Homo sapiens: one gene and its partners. The protein of the gene in region 4 interacts with the protein of the main gene of each other region in a biochemical or structural test. Each region holds a gene or a part of one and is shown on either strand. Other genes may lie near its edges. The genes, in order: MAPK8, MAPK14, USP5, METTL3 and EIF3M.

Region 1 (4,201 bases), on a different chromosome or scaffold from region 4:
AGCACGGTACAAAGGTCATTTGGAGCAGGAACTGTGCAAGACGGAGTGGCGTCATTACAGTGGCTGGGAAGGTACTGCAGGGACCCTGTATTCCCACACAGCAGCAGACCCAACGTAGGCAAAGAGGAAATAAGCATGGCAAAAGTTGGAAACAGTCAAAGCTAAAACCTCTTGCTTGTTTTGAAACAGACCCCAATTTTAAGTACTTATTTTTGCCAAGTGGTCACGATGGCTGTTCTCTCATATGTCTACCAAGAACTAGGTTAAGGGCATTGAAGCAAAGTTCCTTTTTTAGATAAAGTTTATCCAGCAATTTCAAACACCAGAAATCCAAGACCAGATCAACCAGATAATCAGCGTGATCATTTAGGCTCTTTACAATCTGTACAAAATCCAAATCTAAGAAACCGGCCCTAGCAAGACCCCTTTTATCCCAATCCACGGACAATCCTAAAATTGCCAAGAAAAACTTTACCACAAACAGATTTTGTTTTCAATGAAAAAACTCTTAATTTCATAATTTTCATACCACTTTTTTCTTTTTTATTTAAAATATTATAACCAATTGACATACTAGATAACATTGTTTACATTCCAGTGGTGCATGTTTAATGACTAGGGCATGAATGATGAAAAACCACAATAATGATCTCAGCATTCCCTAAAAAGTGCCCCATTTTGTTTTGTCTAGAGGAAAGGAGAGGGAACGGAACACAGGGAAGGAGAGGAATGGAGGAGGAATGACATCGCAGAGGGAGAAAAGCAAATGTCAGCTATCATACTCAGGTTTCCAGGTGTGACACCCTGCTGACCAGGATAAACTGTAATGAGAAAATAGATGTCACAGTCCAGGGAGACACGTAATTCAGTCTAACTTCATTATTCAGCTAAAAGATTAACAGCTTCTCAAAAATATACCAAATATTGGGCCTACAAAAGTAATTTATTTCTTCGTAAAATTTTTACTAAGATTTACTCCTTTTGTAAAATGTAAATGGACCGATATCACGAGCAGGTTTCTACTTACAAAAACAGTAATAATGTCAACGAGCACAATTTTGCAAGACATACAGTCAAAGATTTTACACGTGTCTCTTACTGATGTAAGGTATATACTTTACATACTTACTGGTATTGTGTCAACATTGGCTAGAAAGTATTTAACACACATTTATAATTCACTCAGTAAAGATCTAACAGGGCAACAGCTTACTTGGGAAAGCATAGAAAATTAGTGTGAGGTAGTTCAATAAAAACCTAGTTTAATTTGTAAGTCATTATGAGAATAGAACATTGTGCAAAATTAATCCACAGGTAATATTTCTCAAAAGTTTCAGTAACGAAGAGAATCTAAACTAGAAATGGCCAGAAAGTGTTACTGTTACTAGACTCTCCTTAAGAGCACTTAACGAAGAGCAGTCAGTTTGAAATTAGGACTTCTGTTTTCCTTACGAGTTTTCTAATCGTACCCCAAACTATACATTTCTGCTTCAATGCCCTTTACCTCTTCATCTTTCTTGCTATTAAGGAAAAATTAGTTTCCTTTGATTCCGTAAAAACCTAAGAGAGATCAGTAGAAACACAATGCACACAAAAATGCAACAGGATACGGAGAGGCAACATTTAAGAGGGCTGCTAATGACAGAATGGTGTTTGGTTTACCTACTGGTAAGAGAAGTTTACTGGTGTCATGGGGCTTCATGCATCCACTCTATAGCTAATGTGTAACTAATGAACAACACTCACAAACTACAACAGTATTTCTGAAAATATTCTATGTTCTAACCTCAAAATGTTGTGCAGGCGAATGCCTAGGCAACACTGAATAGTTAAGTCTTCATATGTTTAGCAGATACTGGCCAATAGTGTAAACCAAGTCTTATCTGTAACCAAGGAAAGAGCTTCACTTTCCTGCTGATGATTTCACTATCAGACACTGATGTCCTCTTCCCTCCATCTTTTAGACAACACAGCAGGATTAGCATAGAACAGAACAATGACAAGGCTGGCAGGATGCTTCTTTGCACACCATCAAGCTTCTTTGGATTGTTAAGGGGGTTGTGTGTAGGCTTCTGATTTAAGAGGCTGGTGTTTCTCTTAGAAGTCTGGCATGAACACACTGTGCCTTTACCAACTCGGAAGAGTGCACGTCAGGAACAATTAGCAGCCAAAGGTGCATGACACTGAAAACTGTTCAGCAAACACTATGACAGAGTTGAGATGCTCTATCTGCGTATAGTATAACTAAGTGATCCCAACAACACAATGGTTTTACAAATGGCCAGTATATATTAGAGGGAAGAGAATAGTAACCAGGAAGACATTGGTACAGAATTAGCATCTCTTTCTGAATCTATGAAGATAATAAAAATCTTGGTCAAAATAACTTTCTGATAGTAAGACAGTGAGTATATTAAGTATATAAAATTGAAAAATCAAAATTATAGAATAAGAAAGGTGGTTTCATACAAGTACTACCTGATAGAAATGTTATTTGTAACTTCTCTTCAAAAAAAAAATGTTTAAGATGCTTAAAGGATTCCAAAATAAAAAGAACCAACATATATTTAGCTTAACAAATTTAAGACGAAAACTGTATTTGGATGTAGTAATTTAAAACCTAGGGCATGCAACATTTAACAAAGAGACCTTGTTTTTAGGATATAATTTGTTAAGTATTTTAGTTTACACTAAGTAATGAGAGTTTGTTTTCTTTGAATTGAACTGAACATGATGGTTGGCAAGTGGCAGCTGGCATTTACAATAAATGATACAGACACACACCTGGTTTTCCTTACTTAACCAAAATCTGTATCAATAGAGATGGCTTATCAGCAATCAAACATAAAATATGAGAACCTTCTGAAAGCATGTCTGCTGTGAAAGTGCAACAGTGACATAATCTATGCTACAGAAAATACAGCTAATTGTGAAATTAATATAAACACACTCATTCTCAAATTTCTGCTGAAATTGTGAATCCAATATTTTCTGTCTACAATTCAAGAAGTGTCTTAGAACTCTAATTTGCCTAATCAAATTAATGCACCTTGTTGTATTAGAAAAGGGACTGATAAAAAGGCTGGGAAGCTGGAAATCATGACTCTAAGCCATCGAAAACAAACTTGCTACTTCAAAGTATATAAAAAAGCTAATGTATTTTAATCTTAAATATTGCACATTAACAGTGATGTAAAATATCTCACTCAAAAATAATTTTGCACTAAATATATGAATAAAATGCCAAGCAAATTTTCAGACATTGCATGTTGAGCCGCACCTGTTCTTGCTCCTGTTGGTCACAAATTCCAAGGGGCTTTCTGCCTAGAACCTTGTTGCTTATGTGAGTATGCATTTCCTAGTTCATTACATGAAATCCCTCTTGTTCCAGAGATAATTTAAAAGGTGCCTGGGTCTATTACAGACAACGTATTTCAGAAATAACGAGACTTCAAAGACATTTTACTTAGGAAAAGTTCAGTAATAGAGAAATAATTCTACAGATAGAAAATGTAAACAGTTAACATACACTTGTCAGGAGCAGCACCATTCTTAACACTACTCGACATCCACATTGCGTGTTATGTTGAAAATCAGGTATAAAAAAATAAAAGACTTAGACTAAATAACCACCATTTATGCCTGCTCTGCTCAATGTGAAGAAACAGTCCTTAGAAAATGATATCCTATATATGGCTGTGTGCTACTATTTTCAGATGAACGGTATATTGCTCATTTGATACATCACCTACACAAATCTAGGTAGGGTTTGGAACCTCCCAATAGCTCGTATAAATGATTATGCTACAAGTAGAATCAAATGAAACACCAGAACAACTGGTGCTCAACTGACAGACACTCCAAGTAATAGGAAACAGGAAAGGTCCAAGGACCCGAAGCTGCAGGAAAGGGAAAGACCAGACTCTAGAACATTGCTGGGACCTACAGCCTGAGTAGATTAACTCAGTGTATACAAAAACAGGCTCATAGCTAGTAGAAGTGAACCATCTGTTTATTTGCATTGAAATGTATTATTCATGAAGTATCCTCTTGCCTTTATGTGATCATAAACTTTGAGCATGCCACAAATTTGTAGAATACACCATATTCTTTTTACTTATTTTTGTTGGGTAGGGTGGGGACATAAGGTGGTGGTAGACGCCCAGCATCTTCAAAGACATGCTCTGAGTTATTCTGCCAT
Region 2 (3,517 bases), on a different chromosome or scaffold from region 4:
TTTCAGTTGCTTAATAATTAGCCACAGGCAGCTGGTGCCTATAACCACCACATTGGATAGCACAGATATAAAACATTTGCAATACCACAAAAGTTCTAGTACACAGTTCTTACTTACAAGCCCAAACCACCAATTCCAAATGCAAAATGATCAATAAATAAGGAAAACAGGGAGAAAACTGGACACTCAAACAATGAGTACCTTCTAGAGCAAGCTTTTCCAACCCAGGGCCTGCGGGCTGCACGTGGCCCAGGGCTTTGGATGCAGCCCATCACAAATTTGTAAACTTTCTGAAAACATTACGAGATTTTTTTTTTGCAATTTTTTTTAAGTTCATCGGCTATCATTAGTGTATTTTATGTGTGGCCCAGGACATTTCTTCTTCCAATGTGGCCCAGGGAAGCCAGAAGATTGGACACCCCTGTTCTAGAGGTTGCATTTAAATATCATAAATAAGTGACAGGTGCATGTCTTTCAGGCTGAAGGAAGAGGGTATGAGGCCAATACATTCTCCAAAGGTTTTTTAAAGAGGAGTTCTGCAAATTAGAAGAACAGCGAAGAACAGAATATTGGAAAAGAAATTGTGGCCTATGTGACAGGTAGCTTTGGATTATATTCTCTGGGTCTTGGTTTCCCCATCTATTAAAAACAGGGGATTCAACTAGATGTTTTCTAATTAACTTTCTGATCTCATTGGTACTTTTCAAAAAAAATGAATAGAGATTACTAACATCTTCAAGACCAGCCAAGATTAAACTAAAATTCAACTGGGTTAAACTCTAGTTGTACTCAACACTAGCTGCAAACTAGAAGACTGTGCTTTGACCCATGACAACAAAATGGAGTCTTTGGGGTGGTCCCCAGGCATCTAGAGTTTTTAAAAGCTCTGCAAAGTGATTCTGACACACTATGAGGGTTAAGAACCACTATGCTGGAACACAAGTGACCGTATAGTTCAGGCAGGAAAAGATAATGGGAAACATTTTCCTCTTGTCAGGCAATCAAAGCTGTATCTACACAGATGGCAACTTACAAGAGAAAGGTTAAGTATATTACAAATAAAAATCCTTTGAATTCGACTTTTACAATCCAGGAGAGAACATCTGTCTGAAAAAGAGCCAAGTAGAATAAAATAAATAACTAAAACCAAAATTTTGAAATGAATTCTCATGTATTAAAAAATGAATCCCTTATTAAAAAGTTTAAACACTAGGTTGTTTATCTAAAGCTCACAGAAGAAAAAGACCTAAGCACAAAGGGAAGATTTCCTACAGGCAGAAAGTTAGCATTTAAAAGGGTCAGGGAATAGACAGGTGTCTGTGAGACAGGACCACAAAGGTACAAGACTCACACTGCTTCGAAAACTTTCTAACACTAGTCTGCCAAGGAGTTCCATCCTTTCCTACCTATCACAGAATTAAAAACAAAACAAAACATTAATGATTCATAGGTAGACAATTAAGTGAGAAGGTGAAGGGGTAATCTGTTTTGCAAGGCCATTACTGAACATGATGGCTAACATTTACTGGCAGGCTCGTCTCAGTACTTTCCAGTTATTTTCTGGCTGAATTCTTACGACAACCTTGTGAGTATGTATGATTATTATCATTTTACGGTTAAGGAAACTGAGAGAAATAGAGGTTAGGAAACTTACTCAAAGTTACATAGCTGGAAATAAAAGAGCTAAGATCTAAATCCAGGAAATCTGGCTCCAGAGCATGTGCTTAACCTGTATGTTATACTGCCTTTCCCTCTCTGCCACCTTGTGTGTCTACACCGGCATGGAGGTCTGTGACTGACTAAATGGTAGCTGGAGATACAGACACAAGAAGAGGAAGGGGAGCAGGGAACAGAGAATAGCATCAGGACAGCAGCTACTCTAGAGGACAAAGCAAGGATGGGACTCTGAGATATGTACCTGAGGAAAGGGGGAAGTATGAATTTTCCCTAATTCTCTTACCTTGGACTGTAATATATATATACCAAATTTCTGAGAAACAGATATAAGGTGAATGAAACAAAGGACAAAGGAGAAACACCAGGTATTAAACTAATTTAAAATCCAGAGGTAGGGAGTAATAAGGTAAGCTAAATACAGGGAGACTGAACTCTGTTATCAATCCTAATATTCAGAGAGAAAGAAACAGCTTTACCTGAGAAATAGAGGTTTTTTCAGTTCATAATGAAAGTACATTCTCTCTAGCAGAAGATAGTTAGAACACGTGGGTAGATATCATGAACATCATAGCCATTACAGAAGTATATCCCAAACTGTAAGCAAGTGAATTGACATTCTGGTTTATAAACTCAATTAGTTTATTTAGGTAAGGGACTAAAATGGCTTTTAGATCTCTAGGCATAATAGATCAGAGGTAGCATGTCTAATATTGCCTAACCAAAACCACCTGAAGGCTAGTTAACTCAATTCTATTAAAAAAAGAAAAAATCCCCAAAACTAATTCTAGACATATATTTTAACAATCTTTCTCACCTAAACATCTTCCATAAGTAGAACTGATGAGAGTTCCAACAGACCACATTTTTCATGACATTAATACTAAACCATGAAACAAGCATACCGCAGATAGGAAAGGAGCTAAAATAAAGGGGCTATAATAAACCATAAACTAGACAGTAAGTCTTGGAGTAAATTAGGGTTTGGCTGCAATCTGGGAAAAAGTTGTGCTGGAAAAACAAAAGTACATTACATGGTAAGCTTTTCACTTCTTGCTTTTACTATTTGTTGTCAAACAACAAACATAACAAGTAAGCAGTATATCACTGCAGGTACCAAACATAGCCCTTTTAATACATAAACATAACAGCAAGATGCCCTTCATTTATAAATGGGCATCTTGTGCTCATTAAGTGTTTATACAAGAAGACTAAAACTGTCACTGGGATCTGGAGTTTCTCATGAGTATGCTCAGGTCTCAGAACTGCTGTGGGATGATTAATAAGGGACTGTTGCAAAAAGAAGACAGACTTGATGGGTTTTTCAACTTATGAGGAATTTTTCCAACTCACAAAAGTAAACTGAAGCCTCTTTCTTGGCAAGGCAAGCTACTCAGTTTGAAGAAAGACCTCATAATGCATTATCTAGACTATAAAAGCAAAATACTGAGAGTCTTCCCTAGAGATAAGTAAAAGGAGTATACACCCATGGACACTGGAATACAGATAAGAAACAAGAATCCAAAACTTTTTAAAGGATACGGTCTGTACCAGGAAACAATGTTCTTCCAGTCAACAGCTCGGCCATTATGCATCCCACTGACCAAATATCAACTGGCAAAATTAAAAAGAAGTAAAAGTATATGCAATGTCACTGTTACAATTCTTGGCAACAAATGAAACCGTAACTAGGGGTGAAATATTCAAATTACTATTTAAGACATCTGAGGCTCAACAATCATACTCATTTTTACAGAAATAAATAGCTTACTAAGATCTTCACCTGACTAAAGGGCTGTTCAAAGGTGGGGTAAGTCAAAACACACTTAAGAGAAATAAGCTG
Region 3 (3,517 bases), on a different chromosome or scaffold from region 4:
TGGGCAACATAGCAAGACCCACACGTAGGGAAAAAAACATAGCAAGACCCACACATAGAAAAAAAAAAAAAACCCACACAGAGAGGAAGAGCTGTTTCACTGGCAGGAGCAGCAAAGGGCTGGGTAGCTGACTCCCCGAGACCAAAGCCCTTTTTCAGGTCTCACACCCATGCCAGGTGCCAATGGCTAGGCTCAAAGTGTGGCTATTTGCTGGAAATCCAAATTCTGCCCACAGCTGATCCTAAGTGCCTGTGCTCAGCCATGACTGAGGGGCAATGAAGAGAGGCTACACTACAAAGAGACCCTGTGCCACAGAAGAGGGAGTGGTTGGGGCAGGACAAGGTGACAGATAGAGTCAGTACCCGTGTCCCCCCTACCAGGGCCCCTTGGTTCCATCAGGGCCAGATTACCAGCCCAACTGATTCAACCCTGAGGTTCCAACCACAAAGGGATGAAAGAACAGGGAAGAGACAGAAGTATCCTCTGGGATAGCTCTGCCATAGACCCACAGCCTCAGGCCCCGACCAGAGGACTTACTTGACAGCTACTGACTTGGCCTGCAGGGCCGTGCTCCAGAAGTCATCGACCTGCTCAGGGGCCCCGTAGGCCTCCAGGCAAGAGCTGAAGGGCACCTGGGCCCGAACCAGTTCTGGCAGTGCCATCTTCTCCTCTTCGGCTTGCCGCTTCTTCTCCTCGTACTCCAGAAGCTCCTCTGGTGACAGAATGGGTTGGTGGATCCTTCGGAGGGTGCTGCTTCTTTGCCTCCTTAGCCTCTCCCTACTGGCTCTGTGTCCGTATTTCAGTTCCTCTACCCTTCCAAAGCACCCCTGACACATGTCCAATATATCTCGCCTGTTTCCATGCAGCTCTGCTAACAAGCTGAGTGTCCACTGGACGAGGTTAATCTACCTACTCCTGGTGGCCCAGACTGGAACCTTGGCTGGTGAAGCAGGGCATTCCCTGGGCTGTGCTCCCATGAGGTGCCCAAGCATTCCTCCTAGACCTTAGCCTCCCACCGTGCCACGGCCTTGCTGATGGAGCAGCCTACCTTTGTTAAGGGCTGCATCCATGGGCACAGGCAGCTGCATGATGTAGTCAACTCGCTGGGTGTACTTCACCTTCTCTGTGGCCAGGCACTTGATCTTTTCCTCCACCAAGAAGCGGAACACTTCATTAGGATTTTCAGAGCTCCGGCAATTCCTCTATGGGAAAGAGGCAGGGTAGGGAGGTCTGGGCAGCCAGGGAACAGAATGGGGCCTGAAAGGTTCATGGGAGAGTCAGGGAGAGAAGGCAGACTACCACTCGGAACTCAGGGACACAAGAGCAGAGCAGAAACCTTCCCTAATTCACCAACCCCTCCCCATTTCTGGCCCCATCCCTGCACTGAGGGACTGTGTTAGAACACGCTTGTATTTTTCTTTATAAGCAGCAAGTATTCTCTTATCATTGTCTTTGGGCATAATCTGAATTGGGCTTCAAGCCCATCAAGGGTAGGGATCATCACCTTCACTGTCCTCCTCAGGTGCAAGCACTGTTCACAGGGACACAGACTGTTGGGGTTCAGGGATGGGACTGGGTTGGGGCTGATAGAGGGAGAAATGGGCAGGAAGGAGAGCGAGTAAATTGCAGGAAGATGGGGGTGTGCCATCTTGCCAGCCCTTACCTCCACCATGTTGATAAGGTGAAGGAAGAACTCCTGGGCATCCTGCTGCCGGTTGGTGGAGAATTCAGGGTGGCCCTTGCCGATGAGGGCCTTGAACATCCGAGGGGCAATGCCATCTTGAACTTCCTGGGAAGAGTCAGGGCAGGGACTCAGCTGGGGCTCAGTGGCCATCCAGGGGCCTTCTTTAGACATCTCCCAGACCTCAGCTTCCCCACAATCCCAGGGCCTGAAAGGGACAGGGTCCTAGACGCACCTTCTGTTCTGGCACCCGCTCCCCATCGCCCGACTCCGGTACTGGCTTGGAATACTCCCCGGAGAGAAGGCCATGGCCCAGCTTGGCCCTGCATTAATATCCAAGAAAACATTTCACTTCAGTCAACTAACGACCCTGTGTGTCCCCAGCTCAACCCCCTGCTCGTGGCTCTCCCTAGCTAACTCTCAACAACGTGAAAAACCTTAGATTCTACAGGAACCCAGCTCAAGACAGACAACACGTCCAGAAGACAGTCACCCGAATGCTCCTAATAGGCCAGTGGTGGCCGTGCACGGTGGCTCACGCCTGTAATCCCAGCACTTTGGGAGGCCGAGGTGGGCAGACCACGAGGTCAGGAGATCGAGACCATCCTGGCCAACATGATGAAACCCCGTCTCTACTAAAAATACAAAAAAAATTTAGCTGGGCGTGGTGGCATGTGCCTGTAGTCCTAGCTACTCAGGAGACTGAGGCAGGAGAATCACTTGAACCCAGGAGGCAGAGGTTGTAGTGAGCCGAGATCGCGCCACTGCACTCCAGCCTGGCAACAGAACAAGACTCCGTCTCAAAAAACAAAACAAAACAAAACAAAAAAAGGCCAGGGGTTAAAGTGCTGTGCCCCCCAGGCGGTCAGGGAGGAGGAAGGTATACGGCCATGACTGTCAACAGCTTTCCTACATAGGACCTGGTTACATACACCTGGGTGCTGAAATCCTGGGTAGGGTCCGTCGGGGCATTCTGGAAGATCTTCTCCAGCTTATCCACATACCTAAAAGTCAAGGGAAGGACAGTTGGAGGGGCTCTGGCCTGAGCGCCGAGGAAAAGGGAAGGAAGCAAACATTTACTAACTCTGTGAACGGGCTCCCCTCAAGAGTGGGGAGTTGCTGTGGGTGAACCTTGGAGTCGCTTCTCTCCAGCAACCTGCCTGTTCTCCCCTTCTCAGCTATGTCCAATGTGCAAGCACGCTCGGCGGCAGAGGAGCCGGGGAGGGGGAAGGTAGCCTGGGATTAGGATAAGTGCAGTTCACGTTCTATTGGACAGAACCTGTTGACATGTTCTGAGCATTCACATTCTAATTGTTCCCCAAATTCGAAAGTAAACTCATTTCTGCTGAGAACCTGCCTTTATTCTTAGTGTGCCAAGCCCCCCTCCTCCCCAAGTGCTACATGTCCATGTTAGGTGCTCATCTGATGTCACTGCCCTAAAATAAAGACCACCTGCTAACCCTTGAGTCTGTCAGAAGGCCACAGAGCCCTGGGACTTGGCACTCTGCACTATCAGTGGGGTTTGTGTGTTGGGGTGCTGGTGGTGCAGCTCCCTAACTTGCTCCCCTCACAGCATGTCAGCCAGAGTGTGACAGGAATTATTCTTTTTTTTTTTTAAGAGAAGACAGGGTCTCGCTATGTTGCCCAGGCTGGTCTCAACCTCCTGGGCTCAAGCAATTCTCCCATCTTGGCCTCCCGAAGTACTGGGATTACGGGTGTGGGCCAACACACCCAGCCGATAGGAACTACTCTAAGACTAGAATCAAACACAGAGGTGCTGAGGGAAGCTGAAGGAGGAGTATGCCCAGAGGGTGCTGACCAGGAGGGGGCCTGGGG
Region 4 (3,517 bases):
TGGTTTCCTGTTTTACCACTGGAAGGCAAGCAGTGCAGGAGACTTGGGTAGAACAGAATAAAACACTGACCTAAGAGTTTAGGTTCCTTTTCTCCTAAGATTATCCTCCTTTCAGAGTACTTTAACTTTCACTGTGGCTCAGAGACAGACATACTTTGCTATTCTAAGAGGGAGGGAGCTTTTAAAAAAAAAATCTCAGTTATTTGGGAGTACAGCCTGTATTCTTCCCACACAATGCACTTCTGAAAGTACACCTTCAGGGTCTGGAGGACTTACACAAACCATAAACTAAATAAGATTACAGACAGAACCCCAATGACTGGAAGGAATATGCTGAAAAGGAATGGCTGCTTCTGACAAACCCATCCCACCTCATTCCCTTCCAAGAGACCTGAAGTGCAGCTTGCGACAGGGTCGATCAGCATCACTGGCTTTCATGCACTCCTCCTTGGTTCCATAGTCACAGAATTCTTGCACTTGGGCCCGACCTCGAGAGCGAAATTTTTCAACAATGGATTGTTCCTTGGCTGTTGTAGTATTTAATAGCTCTAGGATCTCCTGACTGACCTGTGACAGAAGTAGCCTTGGACTTAAAATGTCTTATAGATCAAATTGGCTCTTAGACCAACTCCGCAAATTCTTTTTGACATTAATGTCTTCTAAGAGATAAATCAACTTTTTTTTTTTTTTTTTTTTTAAGAGATGGGATCTTGCTGTCACCCAGGCCAGAGTGTAGTTGTGTAATCATAACTCACTGTTTCTCCCACTGAACTCCCAGGCTCAAGTGATCCTCCCAGCTCAGCCTTCAATTGTAGCTGGGAATATAGGTGCGTGACACCATGCCAGCTAATGTTTTAATTACTTTACTTTCTATAGGGATAGGGTCTATGTTGCCCAGGCCGGTCTTGAACTCCTCGCCTCAGGTGATCCTCGCGCCTTGGCCTCCCAAAGTGTTGAGATTACAGGAATGAGCCATTGTGCCTAGACCTAAATTAGCTAACTTAATATTGGAAAATTGGAGCCTTCAGATAAGAGATTTGTTAGGGGTTCAGTCCTTCCTCACAAATATGCATTTGGGATGAAATTAAAATGGAAGAGGCCTGGTTCCTACCGCTAAGCATTATGTTAACATCCCCTCCCCAGGAAGGCATTCCTTCTACAAAAAACATATTTACTGGGTGCTGAACTAAAAAGTATAGTGCTAAACACTTTACTTTTTAGCTCAGAGTCTATTCAATTCTATAAGGCAGGATACGCTGGTATTATCTTCATGTTACAGATGAGAAGACTAAGGCTCAAGAGAAGTTAATTAACTTGTTCAAACTCACGCACTAGAAGTACCAAACAGATAAGAACTCATGTCAGGCCAATGCTTATACTCAGAACCAATTCACATTATTTAGTCAATTTCCATAATTGGTCTAGTATTCCTCTCCATTCATCTCCCTATATTTCTATATATTTGGATTCCTCTTCTCTTGATCCAATTCTTTCAGATTCAGTGACAGATTATCTAAATAAGAATTTGTCGACATTGGCATTGTTGACACTTTGGGACAGACAACTGTTTGTTGTGGGGGTTTGTCCCACTATGCACTGTAGGATGTTTGACAACATCCCTGGCCTCTACCCCCACTAGATGCCAATAGCACTCCCCCATGTGTGACAATAAAAATGTCTCCGGACATTACCAGATCCCCTGGGAGTTGGGCAGTAGGGAATCATCCCCAGTTGAGAACCACTGCTGTAAACAGTTCCTTGCCCTAGGGGTAAATCCCTGTCAAACAAAGCTATAATTAAGAGCATATTGTGAGAGTATTTTCACATGACCCCTACCTTCTTGCTCTGTTGTTCCTTAGTGGACTGTTGGTTCAGAAGGCTCTCTATCTCCAGATCAACATCTGAGGCAGCATGTTTCCTTGATTTCTTGGCTGGCTCCTTTGCTGGTTCCGATGCTGAAGAGTTCAGACCAGAGACTAACGAACTGGCAAAGGCAGCTACTGTAGTCGAGTCCTGTTCTGCACGCCGCTTCTGCCCTGTGACAGTCCCTGCTACCTCCCCAGGGCCCTTCTTTTCTGCCACAGCACCCATCATGGCAGAGAGCTTGGAATGGTCAGCATAGGTTACAAGAGTAGGATGTGCATCATCTTGTAGGAGACCTCGCTTTACCTCAATCAACTCCTGAGCTGCAAACTTCTGCAGGAGGCTTTCTACCCCATCTTGAGTGGCAGGAGCATCTGGCTAGAGAACGAGGGGAGGTATGGGCAATAAGACACTGACCGTGAACTGAAAATAAGTGGTAAATCCTAACTCTGTCAGGTCATTACCGTGGAGATGGCAAGACAGATGGACACAGCATCAGTGGGCAATGTTAAGGCCAGATCAGAGAGGTGGTGTAGCAACTTCTTCTCTAACTCAGGATCTGTAGCTAATTCAGGAACTGCTGAAGCTGTGCTGGGCTTAGGGCCACCAGAGGTGGGTGCAGTAGGCACTGGGCTGTCACTACGGAAGGTTGGAGACAATGCTGCCTCTGGATTCCGTAGATCTAAGAATGAAGAGAAGTGAAAATGAAAAAAGGCAACCACTGTTGGTCTATATATTTCTGAGAAGTCAAATTCTCTAGCATTCCCATACACAGATCTTTCATTTTGTGCAGGAAATTCTGTGACCAACTTTAGCACTAGATTACCTATCCTCAATCATACTAAAACATTCACTGCTTTGTCAAGATAATACTGGATTTTCTATCTACCTTTTCTCTATTGAGTGAGTAATCTTTTCCTAATTCCCTATCCTTGCTGTGATACAAAGAAAGTAAATTAGCATGATAGATTTAAATATCCCTACCACCTTTCTATCAACCTACATTTTAATAAAGGACAGGAATATACTCAACAACCTAGGCTGGGATCCAATATTCTTTTTGAGGCATGTAGTGTGAATTTTAATGAATTCAGGCCACTGATCAACAAAGTGTACAAAATGACAATGTTGGGGGCCAACAGTGTTACCTATAACACTCACAAACACAAAAATCTTAATACTTTGCTGAAGCCTTGGTTACCAAATGATATTTCCTGACTATATTATTATCATCTATTACTTCACAAGCTGGGTTGCCATCATAACCTTAATAACGATTTGAGAAACTAAAATTAGGACAAAATGTTATCTTTGAGAAAGCCTAATATCTGTGGTTAATTAAAATATAGATGAAATATTAAACTCCTAAGAACTGAACTGAAATTGCTAAATAAGTAGGCCATTAGTTTACATTTAGAAATATTTTGTTTACTTAAATATTTCCATTCTGGTAAGGCACTGGGGCTCACGCCTGTAATCCCAGCACTCTGGGAGGCCAAGGTGGGTGGATCACTTGAGGTGAGGAGTTCGAGACCAGCCTGGCCAACATGGTGAAACCCCATCTCTACTAAAATACAAAAAAAAAAAAAATTTAGCTGGGGGTGGTGATGCAAGGTTATAATCCCAGCTACTGGGGAGGCTGAAGGAGGAGAAT
Region 5 (3,517 bases), on a different chromosome or scaffold from region 4:
GGGGGAAAAAACTATTTGTTACCATTCTGTGGCTATGGCTTAAAAAAAGGGACCAAAAATACAAATCACCATATATCTAAGGAATAAAGTCTTCTACAAAGAAACAATATTATTTTAAGAATAATGTTTAGCTTAATAAAGTACCTTTAATCATCAAATTTTATCAGCTCTTAAAACATTTCTGAAAGTTACCATTATGATCAAAGTAATGGTAATTCTTTCAGTTGCTTTTCTGCTCACTCCTCCATCTCTAAATTTTAAAAACAAATGTACCAATGGAACTATTTCTTCAATCTTCTCCAAACACCCGATTGTTGATATAACTTTACCTCAAAGAATCATGGTACAGAAGAGCTGGAAGGGCCTAAAGTTCAGCAAGCTCTTAAATGAGACAAAAAGGTTCCAAGTCATTTTCTCTCTCTTTTTTTTTTGTTTTTTGAGATGGAGCCTCACTCTGTCATCCAGGCTGGAGTGCAGCAGTGTGATCTGAACTCACTGCAACCTCTGCCTCCCGGGTTCAAGTGGTTCTCTTGCCTAAGGCTCCTGAGTAGTTGGCACTACAGGTATGTGCCACCATGCCCACTAATTTTTGTATTTTTAGTAGAAATGGGGTTTTGCCATGTTGGCCAGGCTGGTCTTGAACTCCTGACCTCAAGTGATCCACCCACCTCATCCTCCCAAAGTGCTGGGATTACAAGTGCTAAGTTGTTTTCTTTTCTTTCTTTTTTTTTTTTTTTTTTTTGAGACAGACTCTTGCTCTGTTGCCGAGGCTGGAGTGCAGTGGCACAGTCTTGGCTCACTGCAACCTCCGCCTCCATCTCCCGGGTTCAAGCTATTCTCCTGCCTCAGCCTCTCAAGTAGCTGGGACTACGGGCACCCGCCACCGCGCCCGGCTAATTTTTTGTATTTTTAGTAGAGACAGGGTTTCACCATGTTAGTCAGCCAAGATGGTCTCGACCTCCTGACCTCGTGATCCGCCCGCCTCGGCCTCCAAAGTGCTGGGATTATACCTCTAAGCCACCGCGCTGGGCCCCGAGTTGTTTTCATACTCCCAGTTTCATTCTCTTTCTATCACAAATGCCACCTCCTACACCTTCTTGGTTTCTGATTCTCAATTCATTCTAAGTAATATTTTAAACTGTCTACCTATTTTTGTGCTGTTCTATCATACACGACTCCTTTTAGGATAATCTACAAATAAGGCCACAGCCATACTTGCTGGAACACATAGTACATAACTGTTAGTGTATCATGTTCCCACCTCTGTGCCTCAAAGAATAAACCCCAAAACTTACCAAGTGAATCAATGAAGTCTTTATTATTCTGATAAAACTTGACATATGATGCCAATTTAGCACTCACAAAAATGGTTAAAAGCTATACAGATAAGAGACAAAAAAGATACCATCAATACAGAATTCAGATTTATTGTAAGATATTCTAAGATATTGTAAATATTATTTTAAAGATACTGACTCCTACATTTTGTTCAAGGCAGAAATATCATTCTGTTTCATCAAATTACCAAACCATCTGCTTTCACATGGCTCACTTTTAAAATGAAATAATCAGTAAATACACTGAGCTCTAAATTATCCACACTGAAAGATGATGGCTAATGGCATAGTCCAGATGCACAACAGTCCAAAATATATTTATACTTGCATTTGAAAAATGTTCATGTGTTTTTAAATATCAGACTTATATTCCTAAGTGGGGCTAGGAACAATATATATGTAATAAAAAAGAAACTTGTATTATCTAAGTCTATAATGATGAGTAAGTGAGAAGATGAAAGAAAGGGAGGTAGCCGGGCACAGTGGCTCACGCCTGTAATCCCAGCACTCTGGGAGGCCGAAGTGGGCAGATCATTTGGGGTCAGGGGGGTCAGGAGTCGGAGACCAGACCAACATGGCAAAACTCTGTATCTACTAAAAATACAAAAATTAGCTGGGCCTGATGGCATGTGCCTGTAATCCCAGCTACTTCTCCTGGAAGCTGAGGCAGGAGAATTGCTTAAATCAGGGAGGCAGAGGTTGCAGTGAGCCAAGATCATGCCACCGCACTCCAGCCTGGTGACAGAGTGAGACTCAGTCTCAAAAAAAAAAAAGAAATTAAGAAAGGGAGGAAGAATAGGACTCTGCTCAGTGGATGAAGAAAAGCTGGTCCTAAATATGTCTGTTCCTGATATAAAAAGAATACATAGTTCTTAATCTTTCCATATCTTGCCATTAGTCACTTTTATTAATGCAAAGAAAAAGAGTCCTGCTTCAGTATGTAAAATTTAGGAAAGGAGAACATTTTTCACATTAAAGGATAAACTACTTACATCATGAATAAGCTCGCCTTCCAAAAACTTGACTGGTTTTAAAGTAAGAAGGTGGTCAAAAAGAAATGCATTTGGATCTTTCAATGCTCGTACAATACACCTTAATTAGAGAACAAAAATGTAAGCTCAGGGTTTTGAAATCCTGGCTTTTCATTGAGTTTTTGCAGATCATAAAATATACTTAATTCGGCAAAATATCTAACAGTCCAAAACATATAAACAACATTAAAAAAGCTACAGGATTGGGTTAAGACAGGCCAACACATTTATCAGGTTCATCTGTTTTAACAAAATGAAATATATTAATTGTAGATAAAAACATAGCTGGAGAGAAAGCACCAAGGTAATCAAATAGTAAGCAGCAGCAGAACCACATGCCAAGACACTAAGTGCTTCACTTGCCTTACATCTCATTTATTCCTCACAACAACCTAGGAGACAAACAGTATTACTCTGCCCCCTTTATCAACTATGAAGCAGTTCAGAAGTGCTCATTAAGAGGTGGAGTAAGAATGTGAATGGAGGCAGCCTGACCTCAAAGTCAAGGATCTTTACCACCAACTTCCCTTTTTACCAACTCCTATCATGTAGAGGTCCACACAAAGCAATGACCAAAAAAAGAAGTTTCATAATCCTTATTACATAGATTTAGAAAACTGATTCTATTCTTGTTACCAGTTAGATCTAAGACTGTTAAAAGCCCTTATACTCATTAGCAATGGGTTAATTTTTGGCAAGCCATCAACTTTCCACCTATAACCTTAAAATTAGGGTCAATTGGCCCAAGATTAGGTTCTAATTCTTGGGTTGGGATCATCATCCCCATACCAGCAATACCCCCCCCGCCAGGTAAACGCCATGCAGCTACTTCATATTCAATCCACAGTTCTTCCAATATCAAACCTTGAATTTTAGTATCTACATTAGAATCACCAGGAAATACACACTATCAAATGGCTCTGGATCACTGGTAGTTGCAAACATGATTTCAGTTACTTAATTTAATATTGTAGCTTACCTCTACATCGCTGTCAAACCCTCATCAGAGTAACGTTTAACATTACCTGTGGGCATCAACTCGAGCCTGGGAAGCATTGTCCTCTGTGTAACTTCCGAGCAATTCCACCATGACTTTTGAAGCAGCATCACTAAAAAGAAATATTGCTTTAGGAACTTGAAAGCATTACT

Evidence for each region.
Region 1: of the proteins of METTL3 (region 4) and MAPK8, one has a biochemical effect on the other in vitro, tested with the Homo sapiens proteins (one study listed by BioGRID).
Region 2: of the proteins of METTL3 (region 4) and MAPK14, one has a biochemical effect on the other in vitro, tested with the Homo sapiens proteins (one study listed by BioGRID).
Region 3: of the proteins of METTL3 (region 4) and USP5, one has a biochemical effect on the other in vitro, tested with the Homo sapiens proteins (one study listed by BioGRID).
Region 5: the proteins of METTL3 (region 4) and EIF3M form a complex in vitro, tested with the Homo sapiens proteins (one study listed by BioGRID).

The regions. Positions count from the first base shown.
Region 1 is NC_000010.11:48,435,672-48,439,872, reverse strand, and holds the end of MAPK8 (mitogen-activated protein kinase 8), read right to left. Parts: 3' UTR 513-4,201; downstream 1-512. UniProt on the Homo sapiens protein: Serine/threonine-protein kinase involved in various processes such as cell proliferation, differentiation, migration, transformation and programmed cell death.
Region 2 is NC_000006.12:36,076,308-36,079,824, reverse strand, and holds part of MAPK14 (mitogen-activated protein kinase 14), read right to left. Parts: intron 3,289-3,517; coding exon 3,217-3,288; intron 1,991-3,216; exon of another isoform or gene 1,961-1,990; intron 1-1,960. UniProt on the Homo sapiens protein: Serine/threonine kinase which acts as an essential component of the MAP kinase signal transduction pathway.
Region 3 is NC_000012.12:6,858,638-6,862,154, reverse strand, and holds part of USP5 (ubiquitin carboxyl-terminal hydrolase 5), read right to left. Parts: intron 2,686-3,517; coding exon 2,614-2,685; intron 2,005-2,613; coding exon 1,917-2,004; intron 1,790-1,916; coding exon 1,664-1,789; intron 1,203-1,663; coding exon 1,049-1,202; intron 713-1,048; coding exon 538-712; intron 1-537. UniProt on the Homo sapiens protein: Deubiquitinating enzyme that participates in a wide range of cellular processes by specifically cleaving isopeptide bonds between ubiquitin and substrate proteins or ubiquitin itself.
Region 4 is NC_000014.9:21,501,337-21,504,853, forward strand, and holds part of METTL3 (N(6)-adenosine-methyltransferase catalytic subunit METTL3), read right to left. Parts: intron 2,546-3,517; coding exon 2,328-2,545; intron 2,242-2,327; coding exon 1,837-2,241; intron 568-1,836; coding exon 392-567; coding exon of another isoform or gene 373-391; exon of another isoform or gene 372-372; intron 1-371. UniProt on the Homo sapiens protein: The METTL3-METTL14 heterodimer forms a N6-methyltransferase complex that methylates adenosine residues at the N(6) position of some RNAs and regulates various processes such as the circadian clock, differentiation of embryonic and hematopoietic stem cells, cortical neurogenesis, response to DNA damage, differentiation of T-cells and primary miRNA processing.
Region 5 is NC_000011.10:32,593,826-32,597,342, reverse strand, and holds part of EIF3M (eukaryotic translation initiation factor 3 subunit M), read right to left. Parts: intron 3,478-3,517; coding exon 3,394-3,477; intron 2,430-3,393; coding exon 2,330-2,429; intron 1,378-2,329; coding exon 1,296-1,377; intron 1-1,295. UniProt on the Homo sapiens protein: Component of the eukaryotic translation initiation factor 3 (eIF-3) complex, which is required for several steps in the initiation of protein synthesis.